Linked DNA regions of Homo sapiens. The protein of the gene in region 2 interacts with the protein of the main gene of each other region in a biochemical or structural test. Each region holds a gene or a part of one and is shown on either strand. Other genes may lie near its edges.

Region 1 (5,268 bases), on a different chromosome or scaffold from region 2:
CACAGCTCAGTGCAGCCTCAACTTTCTGGGCTCAAGCAATCCTCCCACGTCAGCCTTCCAAGTAGCTGGGACTACAGACACACACCACCATGCCCAGCTAATTTTTGATTATTTATAGAGATGGAGGGGTCTCACTATGTCATCCAGGCTGGTCTCAAACTCCTGGACTCAAGCAATCTTCCCACCTCAGCTTCCCAAATGCTGGGTGTACAGGCGTGAGCCACTGCACCCAGCCTCTGATTTATAACACTTTTTTCTCTGTACACTGGTACCTCATAAAGTTTTAGACATTTCTCTAAAATGTGCTAAAACTTCTGTTCTAAATAACAAATTTAACACATTACTCATTCAAAACTAAAACAAGCAAAAATGGATTTAAGTCTTTGGAAAATTTAACATTAACAATAATATCGTTGGCCTACTTTCATACATCTATCCAAGTACACAATTTTTAGATGAATTCCCAATAACTTCTTTCTCATGACCTGATATTGGTTAGTAGCAAGCACAGTCAATTTTCCATTAATTGTGCTTTGTGAAAGACTAAGTACTAAGCCACCATTTTAGGATATAATCCCAAATATTTCTCTTCTAAACATAAAAAAAAATGTTATTTTGGTTTCAGCTTTTTACGCTCTTTTGTTATGGGTTGGCAAAAATATAAAAAAACAAAATCAAAGAAATCTTTAAAGCAGGCTATAAAGTTCGCTCCAAGAGGTTCTGTCATCATCTTAAGGGCTTTCTTCCACTCTAGTTTTCCCAGTAAGGAACTCTATCAGAAATGAAATAATAAAGGAAGAAGAGTTTTCAATGAAGAAATGAATATCTTAAAGAGACTGTTGCCTAGGTGTCAGGACCAAGCAAAACATGGACCGGGAGTTAACCTGATAAAAAAAAGATTAAAGATGGACAATATCCTGGCTTAAGTGCCTCTAGAAGTTCAAAATAGTTCCCTAAAACAAACACAAATTAAGAATTATAATTCAAATAATGAACACAGAAAAAGAGAAGATTAGAGGTAAAACATCGTAGGGTCAAACATAACATTTATTATACAAAACACCAAATGTGTTTTGACACATATATTCTTGATGTTAATGCAAGTCAAGTTATCCTAACCCACATATCAAGTTTTATTTTTATTTTACCTAAAGAATGACTACAAGTTGTATTTTTAAAGTTGATAGTGATATTTAAGTCGGTTCTCATTCGGCATATTATATCTGTTTCTATACTTAACAATGACAATTTTTCATTCATCTTCAGCAGAGGAACCTTTTTGTTATCAAACGTAACCTTTTTGTTATTCTAAACAACAGTATCACATTTAAATTACATCTTGAAAATAAGGGACAATTTCTCTAAACAGTCTCCCTACTGACCAACAGAATTTATTATAATTAAAAGAGCTTCCATAATACTTTCAAAATGAAGAAATAGCATAGGGAGACTATAACTATACTGACCAATACCAGTTAATAGCCAAAATAGGCATGATTCGGGTAGTTCTAAAACTATAAACACAGATGATCCTGAATTTAAAAAAAAAAACTATAAATCGGCTGGGCGCTGTGGCTCATGCCTGTAATCCCAGCACTTTGGGAGGCCGAAGCAGGCAGATCACGAGGTCAGGAGATCGAGACCATCCTAGCCAACATGGTGAAACCCCGGCTCTACTAAAAATACAAAAATTAGCTGGACATGGTGGCATATGCCTGTGATGCCAGCTGCTCGGGAGGCTGAGGCAGGAGAATCACCTGAAATGGGGAGTCAGAGGTTGCAGTGAGCCGGGATTGCGCCACTGCACTCCAGCCTGGTGACAGAGAGAGACTCCGTCTCAAAGAACAAAACAAAACTATAAATCAAATTTTCACATACCCACAACACAAACATGCAGTTAGTATATTCCCCCTATAAATTACTGTATAATTCTGATTATGAAGGATTCTAGAATGATGGAAAAATGGTATGAAATTATGATTCCACATTCTTTTATAACTGTAGATGAAACAAATATTGACAGTTGCACAACAGCATCTTCCACATACTTTACATCAAGGAAAATTTTGTTGTGACTAATAAGCTTTTCTAAGGATTAATAGAAATCTATAAAAACAAAACAAACAAAAAAACACCACTCTACCAAAAAATATCAAAACCTGAATCTGATCAAACCTCTAGATCCAATTAACAGGTTATCAAAAATATAGAGGACAGAGGAACATGTTAAATAATACCACAGAGATGCAATCTGCAAAACTCAGACTCTGAGAAACTAAATAAAGCAACCTAGTTTCTTCAACAAATAAGTCATAAGGGGAAAAAAGGAGATAGAGGATGGAAATTATAAATTAAAAGACTTTAGAGACAAAACCAATTACAACATGTCAATTTTATTAGGTTTTTGAGTCTATAAACTGATGTAAAAAATGAAGTTACTTATGAGACAACAAGAAATTTGAAAACCAGATGTTTGCTGATATGAAGAAATATGTTAACTACATTTAGGTTAAGAATCCATCTTTTAGAGACAAATACTGAAATATTTATGGGCTTTGCTTCACAAAAATATGAGACAGGGAAATGCTTCCAACACTTCTCCAGTAAGTATGATATTTGCTCTAAACTTTTTGCAGATACTCTTTATCAGGTTAAGGATATGTCTATTTCCAATTAAATTTTTATCTTATATAGATGTTAGACATTTATCAAGATGATCTCATTCCTCCTTTGGTCTTTTAATGTGGTAAATTACATAATATTAGATTTACTACTGTTAAACCAGTTATATCACAGAGATGTAGTTTGCAAAAATCTGCAAAAACTCAATGGGTCAGTGATGTAATGACTATAAAAGAAAATAAAATCTTTCTAGTGTTGGTGAGAGCATACCTGAAAAACTATTTCTAAACTTCACTGACAAATCAAAGAACACCTACAGGAAATGTCTACAGGGTAAATAGAATCTGACACTTTTCCTAATGGGGAAGGAATGTAGTATAATGGAAATAACATAAACACTGGGTTCACATCCTGACTCTGCGACTAGTTCTATTAACCTTGGGCCAATAGTCTCCCGGCCTGTTCCACATATCCCTATATGCTGCAGGATTTCTGAAAGGATAGGGAGATCAACTGAGAAACAGTTCAGTAGTTTGTTCTAGGTATTAAACTACTAAATGGCAGAGTCTAGGCTTAAATCCAGGATTTCTTACTCTAAGTCCACGATCTTTCCAATACTGTATACCATATCTCAGTAGATTCCATTTCATATCAACATAATCCAAATGAGTGAAGTTAACTCAGTTTTTAATGTCTAGTAATAACTTATAACATAATTCTCAAAGTATAGTCCAGGAACCCTAGTGGTTCTTGAGACCCTTTCAGGAGGTCTGCAAGGTCTCACATGCATAGTTTTCCAGAAGCTAGTGAAAAGTGATGTCCATAGCAGACTGAATACAGAAGCATATATGTGAATCCGGCTATTTTCTGTTAAGCTAGACATTAAAGACATTTGTAAAAATGTAAAATTTTCTACTTTTTTCAGAAAATAGTTATTTTTCATAAAACATTATTTGTATTAAGATATAATGGGTTTATTACTGCTATTTTTAAAAAATAATAAATATTATTACATTTTATTTTAATTTCAAATACAATAAATGTCAATGAATAAAACTCACATTAACAAAAGCCCTTTGGGGACCAAAGGATTGTAAAGGGGTCATGACATCAAAATGTTTAAAAATCACCAGCTTCGGACATATCTAATCCTTTACTAGATTTAACTACAAATAAGTATATAAAATTCAGAATAAATAAGGTGTTCAAAATGCTATGAACACCTTCATTGATTAAAAAATTATGTGGGGAAAGTCAGGAAGTGGGAAAACAATATGGTGTTATAGAAAGGACAATACTTTTATATACAGAAATCCTGGGTTCAAATGTACTAGACATTTCCCTGAGTAAGTTACTGAACCCTCTTAAGCTTCAACCTCTTTGCCTATAAAATAGAGACACTGGCAAACTGCCTTACCTTCTTCTCCAGGTTAAGAGAGTCAAGTGAGATAATGACTATAAAACGCTATTTCAATACATTATATTGAATATTGACAATGAAAAAAAAAACCACTACATCACTACAAACATAAAATCATAGCTATTATTAAAGTTTACCTCTGTGACAGACAGATGGACACTTATGGTTTCTACATCCTAAAGTCCGTCCACAGTTTTGATCACAAGGTGGACAGTTTCCAGGGCAACACTGAAGAGAAAGCAATATATAAAGAACAGGTAATTCAAAAACCCATGAATAATAGGCATGTCATTACTAGTTACAGAACTTATGGAAAGCAAAAGATACACTTTTCACTAAAAGAAGTATTCAAGAATATCAACATTCTTCTGGTAAGTAAACATACTTCACTAAGAACTTATGATGACCTAATTTAACAAATCAAGCTAAATTTTCCTGACTTTCAGTTAATTATTCTATGATTCAAAACATTTCCATCAGATAATTTCATTCCTTTATCTATGCAGAGACTAACAACATTAACCAAAGGAATGTCAATTCAGGAAAACAATTAGTCTGGTTTTTAAAAAAAATTTAATTAAAATCAAATTCAACGTATAGATTCATTTGGCAGTTATTTATTTTCTTTTTCTTTTTTTCTTTTTTTTTTTTTTCTTGAGACAGAGTCTGGCTCTGTCTCAGGTTAGAGTGTAATGGCACAGTCTTGACTGACTGCAACCTCCACCTCCCAGGCTCAAGCCATCCTCACACCTCAGCCTTCTGAGTACCTAGTTCTACATGCTCTCCCCACCACACCTCAGTAGTTTGTGTATTTTTGGTAGAGATGGAGTTTTGCCATGTTGCCCAGGCTGCTCTCAAACTCCTGAGCTCAAGCGATCTGCCTGCCTTGGCCTCCCAAAGTACTTGGATTATAGACATAAGCCACTGCTCCTGGCTTCGTTTGGCAGTTATTTTCAAACCATAGATTAAGAGATTAAAGAAGAGAAGCAGAGATAGGCTACTTGCATCCAGCTTTCTTTGTCACTTCCCTGGTTTCACAGACACTTCCGTGTCTGTGAGAAATATAGCTATCTATGACCTGTCCTAATTTTTCAATCATGGACACCAGTCAACTACTTCAAGTCTATATTGCCATCTTAACTCTTTCCTTAACTTCTTACTTACCTAACTTTGGAAAGGAAATACAGACTACAATTGTCTTAAAGAAACTTAGGGTTGTATATAAG
Region 2 (5,268 bases):
AAAACAGCTGTGCAAACTAGGCACAAAAGCAGATACAACATTCTACCTGGTTCTAGACTTTATCTGTACATATGGTACAACTAAGCTATTTTGATTTTTCCACTTCAAATATTTGATATTAAGCTATCCTTACGTCAAGACAAAACCCACTCTACTATGATGAAAGGTACATTGCTATGGAGGACAGGTATAAAGGAAACACAATTAGCCTGGACAATAAATGAACACTTACAGTAGCAGTTCTCTGCTCATCAAACTTTGAAAGTTTCTGAAGTTCTCTATAAACTGTTCCAAGTGGTGCATATTCCAGAATTAGGTAGACTCTGGTAGCATCATGGAAATAACCATACAGTCTAAGAATATTAGGATGCCTGCAACAAAGGATAAACATTCTAACACTTGGTTTGGAGCTCACAGAAGACTATGTACAAAATGTCAAACAAACTCTTCATGTAAAACCAGTGGTGTTTCACATGAAACCACACTCCAAACCCCACTTTAGAATCTGAAACTATAAACCCACTCCAAGAAAAATACATACACCCACATATCATTTTAAAAGCACTTCACAGTATTAATGGACCTCTGGTTTAGTTAAGACTATTTCCTTCCTTTAGGCACCTTTATTCTTAGGAGGAAAATTCAGCTGAATATTAATTATCTACATATTAAAAAAAGGACATGGCCGGGCACAGTGGCTCACGCCTGTAATCCCAGCACTTTGGGAGGCCGAGGCGGGAGGATCGCGAGGTCAGGAGTTCAAGACCAGCCTGGCCAACATGGTGAAACCTCGTCTCTACTAAAAATACAAAAATTAGCTAGGCTTGTTGGTGCATGCCTGCAATCCTAGCTACTCAGGAGGCTGAGGCAGGAGAATCGCTTTAACCTGGGAGGCAGAGGTTGCAGTGAGCTGAGATTGCGCCACTGCACTCCAGTCTGGGCAACAGAGCGAGACTCCATCTCAAAAAAAAAAAGGAAAAAAAAAAAGGACATGGCATTGCCACAGTAGTTTGACACCCAGACACTGTGACAGATAAAAGCAGTGATCAGTAATGGCAGTAGATGGGTGCTGAGCAGACTGGGCAGGTGCAGACTGTGGCCAGCGGGAAGCAGGCAATGGGAAGCACAGCCCATGTGAGATGCCTGCCCCTCCCAGCCCCAGCCAGGTGTTGCCAGGCAGAGACACACCAGGCCTGATGTGGCCAGACTTGAAGTATTAGCATCTGATTCAAATTTGAAAAACACTGAAAGAAAAAAAGGAAAAACAAAAACCCACCAGCCGTAGTCAACCTGCAGGTAGCTGCTCGCAATTCCTGCATACCTCAGAATAAGGGGTGCCATTCCCCTTCACTGTCCACCAGAAAGACTTGCCCATATAAACTATTCTATTAACAAAACATTAAATCCTCAAGTGATTTTTCCAGGATCAGAGCACTTAAGTGCTCTTTGAAAGATGACAAATTTAATCATTTTTTGTGGTACTATGAAAAGCAGGCCCTCTAAAAAATAAATTTATACTTAAAAAAAAAAAAAGGAATACAATTTTATTTTAACATGCAGAGCATGGGAGAATCACAGGAGAATGCTTATAACCCAGTGCAGTACAGAAGCTTATCTAATCTTTTTCATAGGGGAGGGGGAGGTGAGGAACGGGGCCATGCATTTGAAGGCAGTGCCTCGTAAGAGGGAGTGAAGGGACCTGGGCAGTGGGAGGCTGACATTACAGGAGGGGGAGGGGTGCAGCATTGGTGAACATTCTTTTGAACATGAACCTGAAAACTCACCGAAGGTGGGACTGTATTTCTACTTCTCTTCTGAGCTGATGCTCCACTCCGGCTTTCTCCAGCTGAGCTTTAAATAACACTTTAAGAGCCAGAATAAACTTGCTTTGCTTTTCTCTTGCCAAATAAACATTACCAAACTTTCCTTTACCCAGAGGGCGACCAATTTCAAAGTCTTCCAAAGCCCACTGCCTCCTAGGAGGAATTTGAACACTTTAGAATGTGAAGAAAACAAAGCTTTTCTAACAAATTTTCAATGAGTAGCAGACACATTCTACAAATAATTTCGTATTCCAACTTCACTCAATATGCATCCTCAGCAAGAACCAAGGCAATAACCACTATCAAAGAGCTGCCACGACATGAAACCCTGACGTCCCTAGCTGCCGTCAGGTGTGAGAGTCAGTGACAAGGAGCAGTCTCGGGTTTTAGACCTGAAGCACTCTATGGGAAATGTCCCAAGCCCGTACTATGCTCAGAGGAACAGGGCCATGACAACGCTGAAGACCACAAAAAGGATAAGTGACCAGAGAGGGAGGAATGCTTCCAGACCATCTGGGGGCATGTTTCAAACTAACCCCAGCTGCTCCCTCCAGTCCCAGAGGTGCTAATTCTCTCTGGGTGGAGAACCACTCTGGTGGTGGAGACAGAGCCACTGTTACTAATGGAAGCGGGATGGAGCCCACAGGCTAGCTGGGGCATGAGAACCAGTGGATTTAGACTCTTAGCCTCTGTTAGACCGCTAAAAGCAAAAGAGTCTGTGGGTTCATTCCTCGCTCCTCCCGGTACATTCTAGAGTCCAGATAGTTCAGAGACTGAGAGGAGGCTTTTAGAAAAGCCCTGGGGAAGACATTACAGCCAACCTTTACAATAAAGAACTAAAACTATAATACTGTCAAAACCCTCAGTCATATATGAGTATATAGTTCTGCAACATATTCTATTTTTTAAAAACTTGCACTTTTGTACAATAAAAAAGTACAGACGCATAAACCATATGTAGTGGTTATTTCTAAGGACAGAGAGGAACTTCCACACATTTCTATAAAAGATTCATACAAGCTTTTTCTAAATTTGAAAGCCATTTTTTAAAGCACTTGAGTTCCTAGTAAAATACCTCATTACACAAAATTCCATTTTTTTTAAGATTGGAAATCTGGAAACATTTATATCCTCTAAATGCAAATAAAGGCCTCATTTTTTTCCCCAGAGTTCCCACAACGAAATTTGCAACGAAATAATATATTCTAGTAGAACAGTACAGAACTTTGTAAATAAGAAAGCTTACTTTTTTGATTCTTCATTTTTCTGTTTTGATGCCAGTTCCTCCTCAGGATTATTTTCTATATGGAATAAGTTAAAAACCTGTTTTTAGAATAACTATATAGGATAAGCTAAGCTGTGAATAGAGGTGAATCAAAGAATTGGTCACCAAAATATTAATGGTATGTCAAGAATGATAAATCTGTTTTTTTTTTTTAAAGTTTTCCTTATAGAAAAAAAGGACTACTACACCCTGACTTCCATCATGTGAAGCCTTTATAGAATTTCTAAAGATGAGCAGACGTATATATAGACAGGCCCTTCTCTGATAAATTAAAGGCAGACTATGCAGGCTCTTCTGAAGCCTCAGTTTCCAAAGAAGAGCTTTTGTGGCAGAAGTACCAATCTTCCCATGCATGACGAGCTGCCAACTCGTCACCTTTTTCCCCTTACTAGGTGGGCCAGCCAACAGTCCATACCCTACATACGAATTATCACCAACATGTAGCAAAACATAAGCCAGCCACCCTCCATTTATATTAGCTGCCAAGGGGAAATATAAAAATAAAAGCCACCAATTCAGCAAAATGCACAATGAACAGTTGTGCAGCAGAGGACTGGGGTAACTATTTCATCAGCCACAAGGACATATGAAACATTTCCACTGGTCTGTCTCCAACATAGCAAACTCGAACAGCACACAATGCTCTGCTCAGATATCTGGATGCTGGTCCAAACTCTTCCTCCAGATGCCCCTGTCACATGTGCACCCCTCAACCCCCAGGACACTCACTCAATTAATATCAATCTAATCACCATCCCTAACTCCTCTTTATTCATCTTTCAGGTACAATTTATTGCCCAGTTCTAATGAGTCTGCATCGTAAATGAGCTCTCAAATTTGTGTGCACCTCTCCATCCTGGCTTGTCTTTGGATAAGTTAACTGCTTCTGAGTCTTAGCTTCCTCCTCTGTAAAACTGAGTTAATAACTGGCTACCTTCATGAAGTGGTTACGAAGATTGAAAGAGATGACGTGGATGAAGCACGCACTTATCTCAGAGCCTGCAGGGAATGAGCACTCAACAGTTGGTAAATAATTGCATCCACTCTGCTCCACACAGAGCAGGTTATTGCCATCTCTGACCTCAACCTCCTTCCTGTCTGGTACTCCTAAATCCAGCGTTCTACTCCAATTTATTCAGTACTTCCACAGTAAATTTTTTTTTTTTTTTTGAGATAGAATTTTGCTCTTGTTGCCCAGGCTAGAATGCAATGGCACAATCTCGGCTCACCACAACCTCCACCTCCTGGGTTCAAGCCATTCTCCTGCCTCAGCCTCCTGAGTAGCTGGGATTACAGGCGTGCACCACCACGCCTGGCTAATTTTGTATTTTTAGTAGAGACAGGGTTTCTCCATGTTGGTCAGACTGGTCTCCAACTCCTGACCTCAGGTGATCCACCTGCCTCGGTCTCCCAAAGCGCTGGGATTACAGGCGTGAGCCACTGCGCCTGGCCTTCCACAGTAAACTTTCTAAAAGGCAGAGTTCCCTTCTGAGTTCAAAAAAGCTTCAGTAGCTTCCAAATGCCCTAGAGATGAGGCCCCATTCCTTAACATGGCCAGCAATGCCCATGGTGACCTCACCGCAGCCTGCCTCAGTTCACCCACTTCTCTGGATTTCCCCCACACTTTAGATCTCAGTCCCTTCAAGTCACTTACTGCAAGCACCCTACATCCAGACTCAGTAACAAGCAATCAAAAGGACACCAATTTATGCTGTGTCCTCCCTGGGTGCCCAACTCTTCCAAGAGGGTGAGAATCAGGTCTGTATTTTTAGCATAGGTCTGGCCCATGGGCAGACACTGTTACTTCAACCCAGACACCATATTTTCTCCCCATCCTCAACAGATATAAAAGCTAAGGCTCCAAACAATAAGTGCAAGTATATACACTGGCTTTTTTAGCAACGACGACAAAGAAGGACTATCCAATGAGTCTCAAAAGCTAGTTTACCAGGTGCCGATGGCAGGGGCTGCTTGCTCTTTTGGGTGTTATTCAGTGGCCTGGAGACAGGATGAGGTACACTGGTTGCCTGCAATTGCTTCTGCTTCTGATTCTGAACCGGCTTGTGACTGGAGACAAGCTTTTGTGCTTGCAAAGGAATGCGCTGGGAAGAATTTGAAGGACACAAGACCCGCTGAGCCTGGCCACTATTTACAGGTAAT
Region 3 (5,268 bases), on a different chromosome or scaffold from region 2:
TGGTGTCCCGAACAGTGTGGCTGGATGGCCAAGGGGAGGGGGCTGGTAGACATGTGGGTGTGGAATGGGAGAAGCCTGGGGGATTGGAGCACTTCTGGGACAAGGGGAAACGCTGGAATACTCCCTAGGAGGTTGGATGGTCGAAGTTGCAAATCTGGCATGGGCAGTACTTGCACTACTTGAAATCCTGTTGGCGCTCTCTAGAGAGACAGGAGTGGGTTGCTTCACAGTGTGAGTGGCTTCAGAATGCAGCTGATGAGTGTCTGTTTGGGAAGGCCCAGTAAAGCGTTGGGGTGGGAGTGCTGGATAGACAGGTAGACTTGGATCCTGGACAGCCACCTGAGCAGCACTGGAGACGCTGGGCTGGAAAAGTGTGACAGGGCTTGGGCTCTGGACTGCAGGTGTGGGCAGCTGGATAGCAGGTGAGGTTTCACCTTTAGAAATAAAAATAGCATAAATCAAGAATTAACTGAGTCATTCCATGTTTTTCTTCTTTCAGTAAAGTTTAATAAATTGTATAAGCAGAGGCCTTCATCAATCACCTTACCTAACTGCATCATCATATCAAACCACTCTATTTCATTTGCAGCATTTTGAACAAACTGAAGTTATCTTGTTTTCTTGTTCATTTACATTTTTTGTCTCTCTCTCTCAACTAGACTCTAAGTGCCATGAGAAGAGCAACGTTTTCTGTTTCGTTTGCTGCTGTATCCCCAGGGTGAAACATTCTGTCTGGGGCAGAAGAGGCCCTCAACAAATATTTTTTAGATGAATAAACAAATGAATAAAATTATTGATAGATATATTAAAAGACTGAAAACACATAAATGCTGGTATGCATATATACATTTAAAAATAATAATAATATGAAGCTATTGACACTAGTTACCTTTAAGGAGCCATGATCTAAGAGAGGGGACAGGGCAGTGGGGCAGGAGGAAAAGCCAGACTTTCGTTTTATACCTACTGGTACTATCTGAATGTTCTGTTTACCTAAATATATTAATCTTATTTTTAATATTACTAGGGGTTTCAGAGTAGCAGTATGGGTCATTTTTCTTTTCTTTTATAAACTTCTCTATATTAAACTAAATTATAAATGACATTTAATTTTTTTCGTTGAAAAAAACTTAAACAACAAAATTACTTCACTCTATTGTATTCAATATGAATACGAAAGGAAATTTCCAAGTGAGAACAGGACTTGCCACATGTCAACCACTGGTGACAGATACAAAAGGAATACTATTGCAGCAGAGCATGAAAGATATGGCAAAATTTTTAAAGGTAGGTGAAACAATTAATGTGTTTTAGCTTTCTGTTCTGAAGAAGACAGGACTACTGATTGAGCTGCTAAGTGACCCAAATGACACACCTGGTCTAAATTTAATTCAACTTTCCTGAAGAAATACAGATGGATGCCACAGCAAGAGAGTCATGATCTAACGTATTGCAATACAGTTTCGAATCCATTAATAAAGAAGATGCAGTCCAAGAAATTCTGCGGTTGGACATGTCTCTGTCATAGACTGAAAGAAATGTGGATCTTTTCCCAGCCTCATTCAGGTGACTTCCCTCTCCTTTCTTTTCTCCAGATAAAGCAGATAATGCCCCTCTTAAAGCAGGAAGTAGGGAATTAAGGGACATAGCCACCTGTCTGAAGATGGGCTCTGACCCAGTGAAGTAGAGAAACAGGATGTAATGATGCTGCCCTGATTTTCACCTGATGAGGTTATCTGGACTAGCCCCACTATCTGTGAGGCACAGGCCCTACTCAGGCCCTTCCTGATTTATCAAGCATAGGTTAATTTCCCTTGTCCACGTTCCCTCCAAACCTTGTAAACCTATCACCTATCATGAAATAGTGTAAATCTTTGTGATTATTTGCATGTCTGCCACCCCAACCATGATCACCAAACTGGGAGATTGAGAGCAGGAACTCTCAATTTCTATTCGTATCCCAGTATCTAGCCAGAACCTGGTTAATAAAAAATAGTTAAGAAAAGTATGAATGGATACAGCTTTATAAAAGTTCCAAAGCCTTTAAATGAATAGGAATACTCATATAAAAGGAGGATGCTGGCATAACTGGCATCAAAGACATGTAATCAAAGATCTGAAGAGAATTCCACACTACCATGCTATAAGCGAGACAGGGTAGTGGGGTGGCGGGGATCATCTCACCTTCACTCACGTATTTTTCCATACATGCGCACTGACCACCAGACCTTGCAGCACCACCCCCACTGACACCATACCCATTGACCAGACCTTGCAAGCTGTCTGAAAAAACTAAGATAAGCAGCATTCCACCACAAATCTTACTCAAGGGAATTAACTCTATCGCCTGCATGTGCACAAGGGCTGCATGTGAGAATGGCCTCCTGGCAAATTCTAGAATGACGATCTAGAATTAGAATGACGATCCTAACCCCTAGGATTGTAATATTAAAATCTCTAGGATTGAAATACTAAAATCTCCGCCCAGGGAGATTTTCTGATCATGATCAACATATGAGTTAGCATGATTCCTTACTTGTCTGCACACCCTGCACTCCACCTCGCATATGTAATGACACTCAGCTACCTCATGCATTATGCATATCACCCTCCTGAAGACACCATAATGCACTCCCTTGGAGAGCCAGCCAGAGAACCCTTTCTCCTGTGCTGTCTCTCTTAATACCCAATCTTTCCAGGCATAAGCCCTAACAACCCCTGTCTAGGAAAAGTTTGCCTGGCCTCTTGTTAATTTCTATTACACTGAGAGCCAAGAACTTTACGCCAGTAACATAAGCACTTTCAGAAACTAGAAACAGGGTGGGTGCCATGGCTCACATTTGTAATCCCAACACTTTGGAAGGCCAAGATGGGAGAATCACTTGAGTCCAGGAGTTTGAGACTAGACTGGGCAACCTAGCAAGATCCCATCTCTACAGAAAAAAAAAAAGAACTAGTAAGAGAAGAGGAGCTTGGGAGATAGTACTAAATGTGAGTGACAGAGTAAATAATGCACCAGACATAAAAATAATACCAGACAAGTGCTGGGCGTGGTGGCTTATGCCTGTAATCCCAGCACTTTGGGAGGCCGAGGCAGGTAGATCGACTGAGGTCAGAGGTTCAAAACCAGCCTGGCCAACATGGTAAAACCCCATCTCTACTAAAAATACAAAAATTAGCCGGGCTTGGTGGCATGCACCTGTAATCCCAGCTACTCTGGAGGCTGAGGCAGGAGAATTGCTTAAACCTGGTAGGTGGAGGTTGCAGTGAGCTGAGATCATGCCACTGCACTCCAACCTGGGTGACAGAGCAAGACTCTATCTCAAAAAATAATAATAATACCAGACAAGAAAGTAGATTCTATCAAAGAAATAGTAAAAGTAGTTATATTTATATCTATACTTGCTACGACTACCTAACGAACTCTTTGACAGCAGAGACTACAAAAAAACTTTATATGTTGTTCCTAGCAGAGTTTGCCCCATAATAGGATTTAAGAAACCTTAGTAGTGAAGGCGGCAGGTAAGCAGGCAAACAAATGTGCCACTGGAATTTACTCAGAAGATATCTGAGATAAAACTCACTGTTACAGGGGAGAATACCAGATTAAACTGCCAGATTTCGAATATATTTACTGAATATCTTAATGTGATAAAAGTGTACTGGGAAGATCTAGTACAGGACAAGTGATCGATTAGAACAAAAAGGTTTGGTAGAATACACAGTAAAATGAAATCAGCTTGAGGGCCGGGTGCAGTGGCTCATGCCTGTAATCCCTGCACTTCGGGAGGCTGAGACGGGCAGATTACTTGAGTCCAGGAGTTCAAGACCAGCCTGGCCAATGTTGCGAAACCCCGTCTCTACTAAAAATACAAAAATTAGCCAGGCGTGGTGGCGCTTGCCTGTAGTCCCAGCTATTCAGGAGGCTGAGGCAGGAGAATCGCTTGAACCTGGGAGGTGGAGGTTGCAGGGAACCAAGATCACGCCACTGCACTCCAGCCTGGGAGACAGAGTAAGATTCCCTCTCAAAAAAAAAAAAAAAGAAGAAGCTTGATTGAGAGCCAAATAATGGAGAAATATTACTAGAAAATCCATGAATTCAGTGTGTGAAATATTATGCGGTAGTAATCACAACATATTTAAATTTATGATCCTGGCTAAAGAGAAAGTCAAAAAAATCTACGCTGGGGTTATTCAATTTTTGGAATATTGATATTGGCTAGGGAAAAAGGCTGATAGAGATTAAAATAAAAAGTTCATAGAAAAATGGAGATTATTTTACATGACAATGCTAAAAACACAAAAGAAAGAAATGTGCCTCAAAGTCACAGTTACTATGGCTAACTGGCAAAAAAATAAATAAATAAAAAATAACAAAAATAACAACAACAACAACAACAAAACCTTCAAAAGCTTGTCCAAATGTACAAATGAGCCCAACTGCGGTGAGGCAAATGCAAAAAAACTAGGCAGTCCAAAGGAAAATTGAAGGAGCCACACCTGAGAGACCTCAAAGTCAATACTAATTGACTCCAAATATTTTTACAAAAAGGAGAGAATCGGTGGAATTATTTAGTCATTACGGTATAAACAGCAACTGACAGAGAACAGAGAGACTCAATAAATTCCTTTCTCCTAAAGAAGACCTTAAGATTTCTGAACCCTAATTTTCAAAGTAAATAGGTTAAAAATATTAGATCAACTACAGTATAATGACAAGTTCAAAGAATGTTCTAATCCAATTGACAAAAGGAATATAAATAGATCTTAGATGGCATTCACCCAAGAATTTTTTTTTTAAAGAAGAAAACGGACAACAACAACAACAACAACAACAACAACAACAAACCTCTGTCCAGGCATGATGGCTCACACCTGCAATCTCAGCACTTTGGGAGGCAGAGGTGGGCAGATCACCTGAGGTCAGGAGTTTGAAAAACCAGCCTGGCTATCATGGTGAAACCCTACTAAAACTACAAAAATTAGCCAGACATGGTGGTGCATGCCTATAATCCCAGCTACTCGGGAGGCTCAGGCAGGAAAATCACTTGAACCCCGGAGGTGGAGGTTGCAGTGAGCTGAGGTCGCGCCACTGCACTCCAGCGTGGGCAACAGAATGAGACTTTGTCTCAAAAATATATATAAATATAAATATTAAAAAATTTTTTTAAAAAACCTCAAGGGTGGAACTGAGAAAATTTTAGACAAAGTAGGTACAAATGGCTTCTGCCAGAGATTTTTAGAAAATTAACATGACTTCCAGCTATT
Region 4 (5,268 bases), on a different chromosome or scaffold from region 2:
GAACTTCTGTTACTTAGGGATATTCTGATTAACATTCTTAGAATAAAATTCCTTTATGGTGAAATATGCTATGTTAAAACCTCCCAATTATGCAAGGGTGGGCATGCATCAAAAAGCAAACGCTATTCCCTCTGGGATATGCACATATCATCAATATCTCCACTTGTCTTTGCACAGATGCAGGTAAATTTGGCAAGGGAGGGTTCTGAGGCCAGTGATGTTCACGAAGGTTATACATACTCTCACAAATCACTGTGCTCCACATGTGAATAGTGCAGAGGCAGAATAAAGGACAACTGCCCCCGCCCTTTTTCCTACTGTATGACAAGTACCCATCTAGACCAAGGACTGACTTCCTCTATCAAATCAGGAAAAAACTGGCTACTGGTTATTTATACTTGAATAAGCCTTGAAATGGCTATTTAAAGCTGCTAGAAGCAGTGGCTGCTGCCTAAGGGTATCAATCTGTATCCAATCACAAATCCTAGAAGACTCCACTGGGAATCCCCATCTACCACACCACTGCTAAACCTACTGACATTTACAAACTATTTCTTCCCCTTGCCTCCCTATATGCCACCAACATTCGAGAATAACCTTTCAGAAATACATAACAGAATTTAAGTCAGTATTTCTAAGAATCTTAACATTCCTTCATACCTGTATTACTTTACCTGTTAGAAATGTTTGAAAATGGGGCTGGGTGCCTGTAATCCCAGAACTCTGAGACTGGCCTGGGCAACAAAGTAAGATTCTGTGTCTACCAATTTTTTTTAATTAGTGGTGCATGCCTGTGGTCCCAGCTACTTGTGAGGCTGAGGTAGAAGGATCACTTGAGCCCAGAAGGTTGAGGCTGCAGGTGAGCCATGTTCATGCCACTGCACTCCAACCGGGTGACAGAGCCAGACCCTGCCTCCAAAAAAAAAAAAAATTAATTAAAAAAAATTAAAAATGCATGGCATTGGAATGTATACTCTTTTAAAAGTAATAAACGTGGAGAATAAGGAAGAAAAAGACCTACTAGATGCAACTATCTTCCCCACTAATCCTGACTCTTAATGTGGCTTTGTCTCTAGACTCAATTTAAATAATGTATTAAATCCCAACGAATCTTCATCTTGGATTTAGATATTTACCAGAAAAGCTCCAGGTCTGCATTCAGATAGCAAAATAAAAACACCTCTGGGCTACTTCTTCAAACTGTCAGTTTCCCTTACTTGCTGAACTTAATTCAGAGAAAACAAACACCTAATCTCTGAATCAGTTAAAAAATATGCCACGACCTTATGTCTCCTCTAGTATCTCATCCAGAAGAATCAAGGAGATAAAATATTCCTCGGGTGATCTCCCCCACTCCCCAACATGCTCTTTTTTCTAACAAGTCTAGCTGCACATCCACACAAAACACCTTCCCTACAGAAGTGGAGGTTGTCGGCAACAACTGACACTTCTTTCCAACCACCTAACCTTTAGGTTGCTGGGTCAGAATTAAACAATTTAATCAGTAAAGAGGCCTTAAACAACCTGGCAGCTCATCAAAAAGTTAAACATAGGGCTACCATATGACCTAGAAATCTCACTCCCAGCTATATACCCAACGGAATTGAAAGTATATGCCCACAAAAAAAAACTTCTACACAAATGTTGATAGCAGCACTACAAGTATTCACAATAGCCGAAAGAAAACAAAATGTCCATCAACTGATGAATGAATTAAAAATGTGGTGTATACATACAATGGAATATTATTCAGCCATAAAAGGAATAAAGTACTGATACATACTACAACAAAGATGAATGTTAAAAACATTAAAAGAAACCAGTCACAAAAGACAACATATTGTATGATTTCACTTGCATGAAACGTCCAGAATAGGCAAATCTAAGAGACAAAAAAAAGTAGATTAGTGGGGGCCGGGAGGGAATGGAGAGAAATGGGGTGTCTGCTACCGGGAACAGGGTTTTTTGGGGGGTATATGTGTTTGAAAATATTATACAGTTCACTGTGGTGATGGCTGCACAACTCTATAGTATACTAAAAATCATATCCTCTAAATAGGCAAACTGTATGGTATGTGAATTATATCTGGATAAAGCTGTCATTTTAAAATGGAGGGCTTTAATATGCTTTCATTAATCGATTTCATTTTTCAAATCCATTCATTTTTTTTAACCTTCAAAAGGACACTACAGGCTGGGCGCAGCACCTCGCACCTGTAATCCCAACACTTTGGGAAGCCAAGGCTGGAGGATTGCTTGAGCACAAGGGTTCAAGACCAGACTGGGCAACCAACATAGGGAGACCCCGTCTCTACCAAAATAAAAAAAATTAGCCAGCCAAGGTGTCATGTGCCTGTGGTCCCATCCACTAGGGAGGTTGAGGCAGAAGGATCGATTGAGACCAGGAAGTCGAGGCTGCAGTGAGCCATGATCAAGCCACTGCATTCCAGCCTGTCTTGAATAGGAAAAGTTAAAAGTGTAGTCTGTCAGCCTAACTAAATCTTAAGAGTACTATACCTGTTTCACAAGAAAGAAAAGGGAGATACGCACTAAGAGATCACAAGCAGTGTCACAAATTCAGACATCTGACAGGTCAAAGTTAAATGAAAAATGAATTTAAAAAACAAAACAGGTACAAACACATCCCACGATTTTCATAAAACTGTAAGTGGGCCAAAAATGTAACACAATCACATTTTGCTATGGAACTTTACACAGTGCTAATATTCTACAACTCATATTGTAATAGTCAAGTTCAGCTTCGTGGTAATATGTTAAAAAATACTTTAAGAAAAACTTTTCTATCACACAGCAAATCGCTTTTCGGTATTTTTGAAGACATTTCAATGACAAGGGAAAATGTTCATGATGTAATACTACATGAAAAATTAACTCATAAAGCTATGTAAAGAATATTCTAATGATGTAAAGCATGTGAATTTTACAAAGTATGTTAAGTATCTTTAAACAAAAATATATCAAAATTTCAACAACGGTTATCTCTGGATTGTGGAATTACAGGGGACTTCTTGAAAGAATGCTGCCCTTTCATAATCAGGAAAAAGCAAATTCTAAACAGTTTCATATTATCACATATATGACACATAATAGACATACTATATCAACTGGCACATCCCAGTTTTTAAATACCTGGATCAAGACTGTGGTTGGGAACAGAGCTGGCACTCTTATTCACCCAGCAGCAGTTTTCCATACTAACCTCCTCCCAAATGCATTAGATTCTACTCATTCCACTTCACTTCCTCCAAAATAAACTTAGCACTTATAGTTTGAATGAAGTTCCCCAGATGATTCTGCTATACTCCCATTTCCCACCCCTCTTTGAGAACCACTCATCTAAGTAAGAAGCTTTTACCGGATTTTCCAGAATACTCATACAAACTAGCTTCAATTTAAATGATCAAAACACTATGGTAAGCCACAAGAATGTGGCCAACAGGGTCACTACAGGGGATAAAGTAGAAGTCTTTGGTTTTTAGTTCTAAGCAAAAGTTAATCCAAGAAAACATACCGAAAGAATATGCACCGTCCAAATAATAAAATCAATATTTCTGTTTTACATTAAATGGCATGTTTGTATTAAAATGACCTAAAGGACTCTTTGAAAATATCATATCAAGGTCAGGCGCGGTGGCACATGCCTGTAATCCCAGCACTTTGGGAGGCCGAGGCGGGTGGATCACTTGAGGATGGAAAGTTCGAGACCAGCCAGGCCAACATGGTGAAACTACTAAAAATACAAAATTAGCCGGGGCGTGGTGGCATGCTGTAGTCCCAGCTACTTGGGAAGCTGAGGCAGAATAATCGCTTGGACCTGCAGGGGCAGAGGTTGCAGTGAGCCAACATCACCCCACCGCACTCCAGCCTGGGTGACAAGCGCAAAACTCCGTCTCAAAAAAACAAAAAACAAAAAAAACTTATCAATAATACGCCCACCTAAAAAAGAAAAACAAAAAGCAACTCATAAAATGTAGTCACCAGAAGTGTGTATAGCTGATCTGCGATTTAATACAGTAAAAAAGAAAAAACAATCAGGAATATGTTGTGGGGCTACAATCAGCATTTTAAAATGAGATCAGGTCCTGCTGAATGTTTTCCCCTAATGCAGAGAAATTCTTGCCAAATTTTTACTTACACGTTCATTTGACACTAAAAACACTAACCATAGTTATTCTTGCTAGGCAGCTTTACAAAATATCACTAACTAGCATCTAATATCACTGAAAATCCAGGTGGACAAAATTTTCTTTGAAGATTAAAAATAATTATTTACTAGAAAATTCAAGTCTGCTCTGGACAAGTCTTTCAACAGGTCTGGATCTGGGAAGGAGCTGAAAAACCTAGAATATTTAAGAATCCCTTGGGGGCACTGTCAAACTAAATATGCTTCTGTAGGATGAAGAAGTACTGATAGAATGTGTGCTGAACATAGGACAGAGAGGAGGCTGAAAAAGCCTGAAAGACACTTGTTTAGACTGGGAGCTCCTTGAGTGAAGAGACTGTGTCTTATCTTAGGATTGCTGGTGCCTGGCAAGGAGGAGGTCAACTTGTTAACGCTTGCTAAATTAAGAGAGAAACGTATCTGGACTACAATTCTTACCCGCCCCCCCCCCGCCCCCCCAAAAAAGGAAAACAGATTGTACAAACCAAATATTTAATTTGAATTCACAAAAACAAATGGAATCACTTATTTTTCCCCCAGTGTCTTTTCTAGTAACCTTGCACAACCCACTCGTGAAGTTTAAGTACCTGTAATCATATAAAGGTGCGTCTAATTTAAAAGGATACAAACATTTTAAAACATAAATCTGTTTTATGCCTACAAAATATATGGAAAATGAAATAAAATATAAATAAATTGAGATACAAACATATTTTTAAAATATTTAAATTTACAAGCAAAGTTTAAAATATATAAAAATATGCCGGGCGCGATGGCTCACGCCTGTAATCCCAGCCCTTTGGGAGGCTGAAGCGGGTGGATCACGAGGTCAGGAGTTCAAGACCAGCCAGGCCAAGATGGTGAAACCTCCGTCTCTACAAAAATACAAAAAAAATTAGCCGGGCATGATGGCGGGGTGCCTGTAATCCCAGCTACTCAGGAGGCTGAGGCGGAAGAATCGCTCGAACCCGGGAGGCGGAGGTTGCAGTGAGCTGAGACCGTGCCATTGCACTCCAGCCTGGGCGACAGAGTGAGACTCCGTCTCAAAAAATAAAAATAAAAAAAAAATAAAAAGGAGTAGGCCT

The links.
Region 1: the proteins of AURKA (region 2) and NFXL1 form a complex in vitro, tested with the Homo sapiens proteins (one study listed by BioGRID).
Region 3: the proteins of AURKA (region 2) and SOX30 form a complex in vitro, tested with the Homo sapiens proteins (one study listed by BioGRID).
Region 4: the proteins of AURKA (region 2) and PPP1CB form a complex in vitro, tested with the Homo sapiens proteins (one study listed by BioGRID).

The regions. Positions count from the first base shown.
Region 1 is NC_000004.12:47,886,434-47,891,701, forward strand, and holds part of NFXL1 (NF-X1-type zinc finger protein NFXL1), read right to left. Parts: intron 4,271-5,268; coding exon 4,180-4,270; intron 1-4,179.
Region 2 is NC_000020.11:56,381,201-56,386,468, forward strand, and holds part of AURKA (aurora kinase A), read right to left. Parts: coding exon 5,057-5,268; intron 3,125-5,056; coding exon 3,070-3,124; intron 1,977-3,069; coding exon 1,785-1,976; intron 372-1,784; coding exon 233-371; intron 1-232. UniProt on the Homo sapiens protein: Mitotic serine/threonine kinase that contributes to the regulation of cell cycle progression.
Region 3 is NC_000005.10:157,638,289-157,643,556, forward strand, and holds part of SOX30 (transcription factor SOX-30), read right to left. Parts: intron 435-5,268; coding exon 1-434. UniProt on the Homo sapiens protein: Acts both as a transcriptional activator and a repressor. Binds to the DNA sequence 5'-ACAAT-3' and shows a preference for guanine residues surrounding this core motif. Binds to its own promoter and activates its own transcription.
Region 4 is NC_000002.12:28,753,712-28,758,979, reverse strand, and holds part of PPP1CB (serine/threonine-protein phosphatase PP1-beta catalytic subunit), read right to left. Parts: intron 1-5,268. UniProt on the Homo sapiens protein: Protein phosphatase that associates with over 200 regulatory proteins to form highly specific holoenzymes which dephosphorylate hundreds of biological targets.